Regions from separate parts of the Homo sapiens genome. Here region 2 is linked to region 1. The links come from fine-mapping of genetic effects on gene expression. Tissue or cell type: whole blood. Region 1 holds a variant in brackets; the other region holds the start of a gene. All regions are shown on one strand. Distances are from middle to middle.

Evidence for each region. PIP is the estimated chance that this variant, and not a neighbour inherited with it, causes the effect.
Region 2: it holds the start of CDC23, and the variant in region 1 is the best candidate, but not a certain one, in a credible set for the expression of CDC23 in whole blood (INTERVAL, PIP 0.54).

Annotation. Positions count from the first base shown.
Region 1 is chr5:138,119,049-138,124,430 of GRCh38, forward strand. The region is part of intron 4 of NME5 (NME/NM23 family member 5); the gene reads right to left. It also overlaps the pseudogene RNU6-888P. Among named protein-coding and RNA genes, the nearest start is that of NME5, 18 kb to the right of the region's middle. The variant G/A (reference allele first, on the strand shown) is at 2,196.
Region 2 is chr5:138,211,127-138,216,508 of GRCh38, forward strand. It overlaps CDC23 (cell division cycle 23), which reads right to left and starts at 2,197. Exons shown (of 16, transcript NM_004661.4): 1 at 2,026-2,197; 2 at 1,865-1,937. The coding sequence starts at 2,186. RefSeq lists an enhancer at 2,214-2,508.

The DNA of each region.
Region 1 (5,382 bases):
AGATGGAGTCTTACTCTGTTGCCTGGGCTGGAGTGCAATGATGCAATCTCAGATCACTGCAACCTCCTCCTGGGTTCATGTGATTCTCCCACCTCAGCCTTCCGAGTAGCTGGGACTACAGGTCCGCATCACCACACCCTGCTAATTTTTGTATTTTTATTTATTTTTATTTTTTGAGACAGAGTCTCGCTTTGTTGCCCAGGCTGGAATGCAGTGGCACAATCTCAGCTCACTGCAACCTCCAACTCCTGAGTTCAAGTGATTCTCCTGCCTCAGCCTCCTAAGTAGACAGGAGTGTGCCACCATGCCTGGCTAATTTTTGTACGTTGAGTAGAGGCAGGGTTTCACCATGTCGGCCAGGCTGGTCTCAAACTCCTGATCTAAGGTAATCCTCCTGTCTCGGCCTCCCAAAGTGCTAGGATTGCGGGCATGAGCCACCATGCTCGGCCCTAATTTCTGTATTTTTAGTAGAGATGGGGTTTCACCATGTTGGCCAGGCTGGTCTTGAACTCCTAACGTCAAATAATCTGCCTGCCTCAGCCTGCCAAAGTGCTGAGATTACAGGCATGAGCCACTGCAACCAGCCTGTTTTCTTTTTCTTTTCTTTTCTTTATTTTTTTTTTTTTGAGACAGAGTTTCACTCTTGTCACCCAGGCTGGAGTGCAGCAGCACAATCTCAGTTCACTGCAACCCCGTCTCCCAGGTTGAAGCAATTCTCCTGCCTCAGCCTCCTGAGTAGAACCAGCCTCAGTTTTCAGTTGGGATGTTTCTCTTATTATTTAGACATAGGAGTTCTTTATATATTCTAGTTACAAGTTCTTTATATTATTTGGTGATATTTTTTCCCAGTCTGTTGCCTACCTATCTTTTCATATTTTTAAAAATTTAACTTCTATTTTTTTTTTTGACACAGGGTCTTGCTCCGTTGCCCAGTCTGGAGTGTGGTGGTGTGAGCACAGCTCACTGCAGCCTCGAACTCCTGGGCTGAAGCATCCTCTGGCTTCAGCCTTCCAAGTAGCTGGGCCTGCAAGTGTGTGCCACCACACCCAGCTTTTTTTTTCTTTAAGTGTTTAGAGACAGGGTGTCACTCACGCTGGTCTCAAACTCCTGGCCTCAAGCAATCCTCCCACCTCAGCCTCCTGAATAGCTGGATTTACAGGTGCAAACCACTGCTCCCAGCTCTTTTTTTTTTTTTTTTTTTTTTGAGACAGAGTCTTTCTCTGTCGCCAGGCTGGAGTGCAGTGCCGCGATCTTGGCTCACTGCAAGCTCCGCCTCCTGGGTTCACGCCATTCTCCTGCCTCAGCCTTCTGAGTAGCTGGGACTACAGGTGCCCGCCACTAATTAGTCCGGCTAATTTTTTTGTATTTTTTAGTAGAGACGGGGTTTCACCATGTTAGCCAGGATGGTCTTGATATCCTGACCTTGTGAGCCGCCTGCCTCGGCCTCCCAAAGTGCTGGGATTACAGGCATGAGCCACCGCGCCCAGCCTCTTTTCACATTCTTAATGATGTCCTTTGAAGCACAAAAGCTTTTAATTTGATTTAGTCCAATTTATCAATATTTTCTTTTATGGATCTTGCTTTTGATGTCATTTTAAGAAGTCTTTGTCCAACTCCAGTTACAAAGATTTTCTTGTTTTCTTTTAGATGTTTTTACATTGAAGTCTGTGATCCATTTTGAGTTAATTTTTGTGTATGCTATGAAACAAGGGTCTAAGTTCTTTTTGTTTTTATGTGACTATCATGCTGTCCTAGCACCATATACAGACTTTCCTCAATTTACATGGGTTACATCCCAATAAACCCATCATAAGTTGAAAGTATCAGTAAGTCAAAAACACATTTAATACACCTAGCCTATTGAACATCATAGCATAGCATAGCCTACTTTAAATGTGCTCAGAACACTTACATTAGCCTACAGTTGGGCAAAATCATCTAACACAAAGCAAATTTTATATAAATAACATTTTCTATATAATATACATATATTATGAGCTGGGCACAGTGGTTCACACTTGTAGTCCTAGCTCCTTGAGAGGCTGAGGCAGTAGGATTACCTGAAGCCATGAGTTTGAGACCATCTGGGCAACAAAGCAAGACTCTGTCTCTTAAAAAAAAAAGATATATATATATATCATTTTTGGGGGAGGATCTCTTGAGGCCAGGAGTTCAATACCAGCCTGGGCAATATG[G/A]CGAGACTGCCTTTCTACAACAAAAAAATTCAAAAAGTAGCCAGGCATGGTGGTCTATGCCTCTAGTCTCAGCTACTCAGGAGGCTAAGGTGGGAGAATGCTTGAGCCCAGGAGGTCAGGCTGTAGTGGGCACCACTGCACTTCAGCCTGGGTGACAGAGAGACACCCTGTCTCAAAAAAAAAGGAAACCAAAATAGAATGGTTGTATGGATACTCGCCATTAATGTACACAGCTGAAAGCACCATAGTAAAGTCAAAAAACTGTAACTTGAACCATGGTAAGTTGGGGACTGTATTGGCAAGACCATCCTTTTCTCACTGAATTGTCTAGGCACCTTTGTTGAAAGTGAATTGACCATAAGTGTAAAAGTTTACTTCTAGATCCTCAATTCTGTTCCAATAATCTATATGTGTATCTTTATATCACTGTCATACCGTCTTATAATTGTGGCTTTGCAGTAAGTTTCAAAATCAGATAGTGGAAGTCTTCCAACTTTGTTCTTCTTTTCTAAAATTGAATTATTTGCAATTTTGCTAAATTTTAAACTCAGCTTGTCAATGTCTACGTAAAAGTATGCATGGACTTTTAAAAGGATTACATTAAAATTTTCTTTAAATTTTTTTTTTCTTGTAGAGATGAGGTCTCACTTTGTTGCCCAGGCTGGTCTCCTACTCCTAGACTGAAGCAATCCTTCTGCCTCAGCCTCCCAAAGTGTTGAGATTACAGGAATGAGCCACTGCACCCAACCCAAAACTGTTAATTAATTTAGAAAGAATTGCCATCTTAACAATATTGAGTCTTCCAATCCATTAATATGGAATATCTATTATTTATTTTAAAATTTATCTCAGCAATGTTCTTTGTTTTTCAGTGTACAAGAATTGCACTTTCATTAAATTTATGCTTAAATATGGCCGGGCGTGGTGGCTCACACCTGTAATCCCAGCACTTTGGGAGGCCAAGGCGGGTGGATCACCTGAAGTCAGGAGTTTGAGACCAGCCTGCCCAACGTGGCGAAACCCTGTCTCTACTAAAAATACAAAAAATTAGCTGGGCGTGGTGGTGGGCGCCTGTAATCCCAGCTACTCGGGAGGCTGAAGCAGGAGAATCGCTTGAACCCAGGAGGCAGAGGTTGCAGTGAGTTGAGATCGGGCCACTGCACTCCAGCCTGGGTGACAAGAGCGAAACTCTGTCTCTAAAAAAAAAAAAAAAAAAAAAAAAAAAATTGTGCCTAAATATTATATTATTTTTAATGTCATTGTGAATGGAATTTTCCTTTTTACAGCTTTATTGAAGTATTACTCATGTACACAAAATTGCACACAATTAATGTATACAATTTTTTCTCAATATGGGCAAATGTTTTATTCATATATTATATAAAGTTCATTATGCCAATTTATCAGGTACTAATCATTAAACAAAAATTTTTTTAATTTTTTTTTTTTTTTGAGACATGGTCTTGCTCTGTTGCCCAGGCTGGAGTGCAGTGGTGCGATCTCGGTTCACTGCAACCTCTGCCTCCTGGGTTCAAGCAATTCTCCTGCCTCAGCCTCCTGAGTAGCTGGGATTACAGATGCATGCCACTATGCCAGGCTAATTTTTTTTTATTTTTAGCAGAGATGGGGTTTCACTATGTTGGCTAGTCTGGTCTCGAACTCCTGACCTCAAGTGATCTGCCCATGTCAGGCTCCCAAAGTGCTGGGATTACAGGCATGAGCCACCACCCCTGGTCCCCCAAATTTTTTTTAACTTATAAGTGTACTTAAAATTTCTTTTTATTTTAAAAGCATGTCATCCTTGCATAGGGGCCAAGCTAATCTTCTCTGTATCGTTCCAATTTTAGCATATGTGCTGAAGTGAGCACAACAAATTTTTTAATAGATAAGAAATATTGTATACATTTATTGTGTACATGTTGTTTTGAAATATGTAAACACTATGGAAAGACAAATCAAGCTAATTAATATATGCATTACCTCAAATACTTATCTTTTTTTGTGGTGAGAACACTTAAAATCTACTGTCTTAGCAATTTTCAACAACACATTATTATTAACTATAGTCACCATGTTGAACTTATTCCTACTATCACAGGAATAAGTATCCTTTGATCAACATTTCCATCCCCTACTCTCTCTTGCAAGCTCCTGGTGGCCACCATTCTACTCTCCGAGTTCAAGTTTTTTTAGATTCCACATATAAGTGAGATCATGTGATATCTGTCTTTCTGTGCCTGGCTTATTTCACTTAATATAATGTCCTCCAGGTTCATCCATGTTGTCAAAAATGACAGAATCTCTTCCTTTTTAAGGCTGAATAGTATTACATTGTGTATATACACCACATTTTCTTTATCCATTAACCCACTGATGGACACTTAGGTTGATTCCATATCTTGGTTATTGTGAATAATGCCACAATGAACATTATTGTGGTTCATTGGTGCAGGTATCTCTTCAAGATCCTGATTCAATTCTTTCAGATATATATATCCAGCAGTGGGATTGTTAGATCATGTAACAGTTTTATTTTTAGTTTCTTGAGGAACTTCCATACTGTCTTCCATAGTGGCAGCACCATTTTTAATCTCCACCAAATGTGTACAAGCATTCCAATTTCCCTATATGCTTGCCAATATTTACCTTTTTTTCTTTTGATAATAGCCATCCTAACGTGTGAGGTGATATCTCACCGTGGTTTTGATCTGTATTTCCCTGATGATTAGTGATTTTGAGCACTTTTTTTTTTTTTTTTTTTTTTTTTTTTGAGATGGAGTCTTGTTCTTGTTGCCCAGGCTGGGGTGCAATGGCGCGATCTTGGCTCACTGCAACCTCCACCTCCTGGGTTCAAGTGGTTATCCTGCCTCAGCCTCCCGAGTAGCTGGGATTATAGGCACGTGCCACCACACCTGGCTAATTTTTTGTATTTTTTTTTTAGTAGAGACAGGGCTTCACTTTGTTGACCAGGTTGGTCTTGAATTCCTGACCTCAGGTGATCTGCCAGCCTCGGCCTCCCAAAGAGCTGGGATTACAGGCGTGAGCCACCACACCCGGCCTTAAGCACCTTTTCATATACTTGTTGGTTATTTGTATGTCTTCTTTAGAAAAATATCTATTCAAGTCCTTTGCCCATTTTTTAATTGGGTTATTTAGGGGTTTTTTGGATATTGATTTGTAAGAGTTC
Region 2 (5,382 bases), 92 kb after region 1:
TCAATGGTGCACTAAAGAAAATGTGGTACATATACACCATGGAATACGACACAGCCATAAAAAAGAACAAAATCATGTCCTTTGCAGTAACATGGATGCAGCTAGAGGCCATTATCCAAAGTGAATTAACACAGAAATAGAAACCCAAATACAGCATGTTCTCACTTACAAGTGGAAGCTGATCACTGGGTACACACGGACTTAAAGATGGGAACAACAGACACCAGGGACTCCAAGAGTGGGGAAGGAGGAAAGCAAAGGGTGAAAACTATCTGGCCAGGTCCCAGCACTTTGAGAGGCCAAGGTAGGTGGATCACCTGAAGTCAGGAGTTCCAGACCAGCCTGGTAAACAGGGTGAAACCCTGTCCCTACTAAAAATACAAAAAGTTACCCAGGCGTGGTGACGGGTGCCTGTAATCCGAGCTACTCGGGAGGTTGAGGCAGGAGAATTGCTTGAACCCGGGAGGCAGAGGTTGCAGTGAGCCATCATGCCATTGCACTCCAGCCTGGGCAACAAGAGCAAGACTCCGTCTCAAAAAAAAAAAAAAGTAAAATAAAATAAAACTGTCTATCAGGTATTATGTTCACTATTTGGATGATGGGTTCAACTGAAGCCCAACCTCAGAATCACACAATATATCCATGTAGCAAATCTGCACAAGTAACCCCTGAATCTAAAATTTAAACAACAAAAACAATTATTTATCCTATTCAGGACCAACGATGGGCCTAGGCATTATGAAAGTGGGCACAAGAGTAAAAGCTAATGAGACAAATATAAACTGCATTGACTCAAAAAATTTACCTAAGAGTATACCGTATGCTTTACCCTTATTGCTTTATTTAATCTTCTTGAAAATGCAGCAATTATTAACATTATCTATAGATGAGAAGGCTGTCACTTAGAAATCATTTGCCCACATTGGTGCTGCTAATAAAGAACTTGACCGAAATATAGATGCAAGCACCAGGCACACTTCTAAGCGGTCTATATTATTATCTCATTGACTTCTCTCAATATCCCCATTGAGTAGATACTATTACTATCGTCACTGCACAGATGAGGAAACTGGCTCAGAAGGTTAAGTTGCCAAAGGTCATTTGAACCCAGAGTCGTCTCAATCCAGCACCCAAACTTAACCATTATTTGCTATGCTGATCAGACAACAGTGTAGGTATTGTAAAAACTTTATTTATTTATTATTTATTTTGAGACAGTGTCCCGCTCTGCCCTCGGGCTGGAGTGCAATGGCGCGATCTCAGCTCACTGCAACCTTCGCCTCCCGGGTTTAAGCGATTCTCCTGTCTCAGCCTCCCGAGTAACTGGGATTACAGGCGCGCGCCACCATGTCCGGCTAATTTTGTATTTTTACTAGAGACGGGGTTTCACCGTGTTGGCCAAGCTGGTCTCGAACTCCTAACCTCGTGATCCGCCCACCTCGGCCTCCTAAAGTGTTGGGATTACAGGCGTGAGCCACCGCGCCAGACCAAAACTTTTGATTCTTCTCATCCTTTTGGGTATTTATTATGAGATATCCTTATAATAATTCCTTATAATAATATTTACTATTATGAGGCACTCTTATGTCTAGGTTTGGCTATAAGCCCTAAAAGGCTGAAATCATAAGCAGTAATTGTTTACTAATTCTCCCCAGCTTTAAATAAGAGCACCACCAAGTCTTTCAAAGCTCAAGAAAACTAAATGGATAAAATCATTTAAAACACTCAGCTCTTTGAATGCCTGAATTCCCTCTACAAACATTTCTGCTAAGCAGTTTGCTCTCCTCCAGTGACAGGGCACTCAGTGGCTCTTGAGGCACACCCCTGGGTTGATGGGGAGCGCTCACTGTAAACATGTCCTTACCTCTGTAATAGGCGGAGGCGGTTGCAGCTCGGCCAGAGGCAATGCAGGGAGAGAGAAAGCCAACTCCGCCGACCTGGAACACCCACACAAACTAGATCAGCTCGACAAGCCCCCCAAGGCCAAGGATCCAAGCCCCGTCCCTTCCCACTCCAACATCTCACCATTTGCTACTGTGTAGTAGGCCCCGCTCCCGGGTAAGGCCCGCAATAAGCAGCAGTTGCTTTTTAATTTCCCGCAAATCTGAGAAATCGCTGTTTATGGACAGGACAGGCGCCACTGCCGCCGTCACAGCCACCGGGACCATGGAGGTACTCGCAGCCATTTTCCCGACTCGGGCCACTCCAGCCAATCATCGGCGATAATACTGGCTGCCCATCTGCACCAAAAATATCTGCCTGTCATTGGCCGGCTCTTGCTCCGGAAAAACCAATCATAGGTCTTATTTCTGAAACGTCACGAAGAGGCGGGGGAAAAGAAACAACTACATCCCCAAATGGCCAAGAGCTACTGAGGCGGGAAAATTAGAAAATAGGCGGGGCGAGGGAGAAGCCACGACCTCTGGGCGGGGCGGGGAAGAGGGGAATGAGTGACTGGGAAAAGTAAACTGGGAAGCTAGGGGTGGGAGTAGGGGCAAGAAAGGGTGGAGAAGGGAGAGTGCCTTTCACGGGTGATGTGATTGGATGAAAAATAGAAAGGGTGTAGTTTCAGGGCCGACTCTGTACCAGATAATGACAAAGTGATGTATATGCTAGGAAAGATGCATGGTAGCCTCTGGATTCTTCCTTAAAATAGGAGGATGTATCGCCCCATGTGGAGGATTTTTCCTCTTTGTCTACCCTTTCTTACCCCGGGTAGCCCGGGGAGGTGGGGGTGAGAGCATTGTTCTGTAACATTTATTTAACAATAATTGTTAACATTTCACATTTATTGAGGGTTTATCCTACAACAGGTTCTGCTCTTTTACAACTATAATCTGGTTTAATCCTAAAAACAGCACTATGATATTCGTATCATCCCAATTTTATAGAAAGAAAAACGGAAGCTCGGCCAGGCGCGGTGGCTCAAGCCTGTAATCCAACACTGTGGGAGGCCGAGGCGGGCGGATCACGAGGTCAGGAGATCGAGACCATCCTGGCCAACACGGTGAAACCCCGTCTCTACTAAAAATACATAAAAATTAGCCGGGCGTGGTGGCACGTGTCTGTAGTCCCAGCTACTCGGCAGGCTGAGGCAGGAGAATCGCTTGAACCTGGGAGGCGGAGGTTGCAATGAGCCGAGATCGTGCCATTGCACTCCAGCCTGGGCGACAGAGCGAGACTCCGTCAAAAAAAAAAAAAAAAAAAAACAAAACCAGAAAAGAAAAAAAAGAAAAAACGGAAGCTCAGAGAAGTTCTATCACTCTTCCAAGGAGAGAGTCTAGACTATAAACCAGATTTTACTCCAAAGCCCAATGTTCTTAAACATTACATGAACATTTTCGGCGTTTTTTGGTTTTTATCCTTTCATAGTAGTATACTATCTTACCAACCCCTCGGGAATTTTTTTTGAAACCATTTTGTCATTCACTGGGTGTTATATAGAAGTTATCTATTTTTAAATTGTTATTTTATTATTTTATTTATTTTAAGAAAGGGTCTCGGCCGGGCGCGGTGGCTCACGCCGGTAATCCCAGCACTTTGCGAGGCGAAGGCGGGCGGATCACGAGGTCAGGAGATCAAGACCATCTTGGCTAACACGGTGAAACCCCTGTCTCTACTAAAAATACAAAAAAAAAAAAAATTAGCCGGGCGTGGTGGCAGGCACCTGTAGTCCCAGCTACTCTGGAAGCTGAGACAGAATGGCGTGAACCTGGGAGGCGGAGCTTGCAGTGAGCAGAGATCGCGCCACTGCACTCCAGCCTGGGCGACAGAACGAGACTCTGTCTCAAAAAAAAAAAAAAGAAAGAAGGTCTCGTTCTGTCATCCAGGCTGGAGTGGCCGCGGCCCGATCAAGGCTCACTGCATCCTCAAACTCCTGGGCTCCAGTGATCCTGCCGCCTCAGCCTCCCAAGTAGCTGGGACCACAGGTGTGTGTCACGACACCCAGCTAATTTTTTTTTTTTTTGTAATTTTCGTAGGGACAGAATCTCCCTATGTTGCCCAGGCTGGTCTCAAACTCCTGGGCTTAAATGATCCTCTCGCCTTGCCCTCCCAAAGTTCTGGGATTACAAGCATAAGCCACCATGCCCAGCCCATTTTACCCTTTAAAAAAATCAATTTGCGGGCCTATATTCCCAGTGCTTTGGGAGGCTGAGGCGGGAAGATCATTTGAGCCCAGCTGTTGAAGACCAGCCTGGGCAACATACCAAGACCTCCCTATCACTACTACTATAAAAATTAAAAATTAAAAAAATATATATCCAGGCATGGTGGTGCATGCCTGTCATCCCAGCTACTCGGGAGGCTGAGGTGGGAGGATCACTTGAGTCCAGGAGTTTGAGGTTGCAGTGAGCTATGATTGCACCACTGCACTCTCCAGCCTGGATGCAGAGACCCTATCTCAAAAAAAAAAAAAGAAGTAATGTCAATGGCAAAAACTTGAAGAATACATTAACTATAAAGAAAAATATGGGAGGTGGGCGTGGTGGCTCACGCGTGTAATCCCAGCACTTTGGGAGGCAGAGGCGGGTGGATCACGAGGTCAGGAGATCGAGACCATCCTGGCTGACACAGTGAAACCCCGTCTGTACTAAAAATACAAAAAAGCCAGGCTTAGTGGCGGGTGCCGTAGTCCCAGCTACCCGGGAGGCTGAGGCAGGAGAACATGTGAAGCCGGGAGGCGGAGCTTGCAGTGAGCCAAGATCACGCCACTGCACTCCAGCCTGGGCAACAGAGCGAGACTCGGTCTCAAAAAAAAAAAAAGAAAAGAAAAATATGGGCCAAGCGCAGTGGCTCACGCCTGTAATACCAACAAGGCCTAGATGGATGGATCACCTGAGGTCAGGAGATGGAGACCAGCCTGACAAACGTGGTGAAACCCCATCTCTACTAAAACTACAAAAATTAGCTGGGTGTGGTATTATGCACCTGTAGTCCCAGCTACTCCGAAGGCTGAGGCAGGAGAATCGCTTGAACCCAGGAGGTAGAGGTTGCAGTAAGCCAAGATCGTGCCACTGTACTCTAGCCTGGACAAGAGTGAGACTCTGTCTCAAACATAATTAATTAATTAATTAATTTTTTTAAGAAAGAAAAATATGTAGAACACTAACTCCCACCCAAAGGAAATCACTGGTTTCTGTGTTTCTCCATCCATCTGTGTACATAGCTTCATACTGCAGTGCTGCCCACATTTGTCATTTGATAATTCACTCTAAGTATTTTCCCAAGTTAATATTCTTCTAAATCGTGATACTTAATAACTGCATGATAATCCATTATATGAATGTACCATAAATTGGCCGGGCACAGTGGCTAATGCCTGTAATCCCAGCACTTTGGGAGCCTGAGGCAGGCAGATCACCTGAGGTCAGGAGTTCGAGA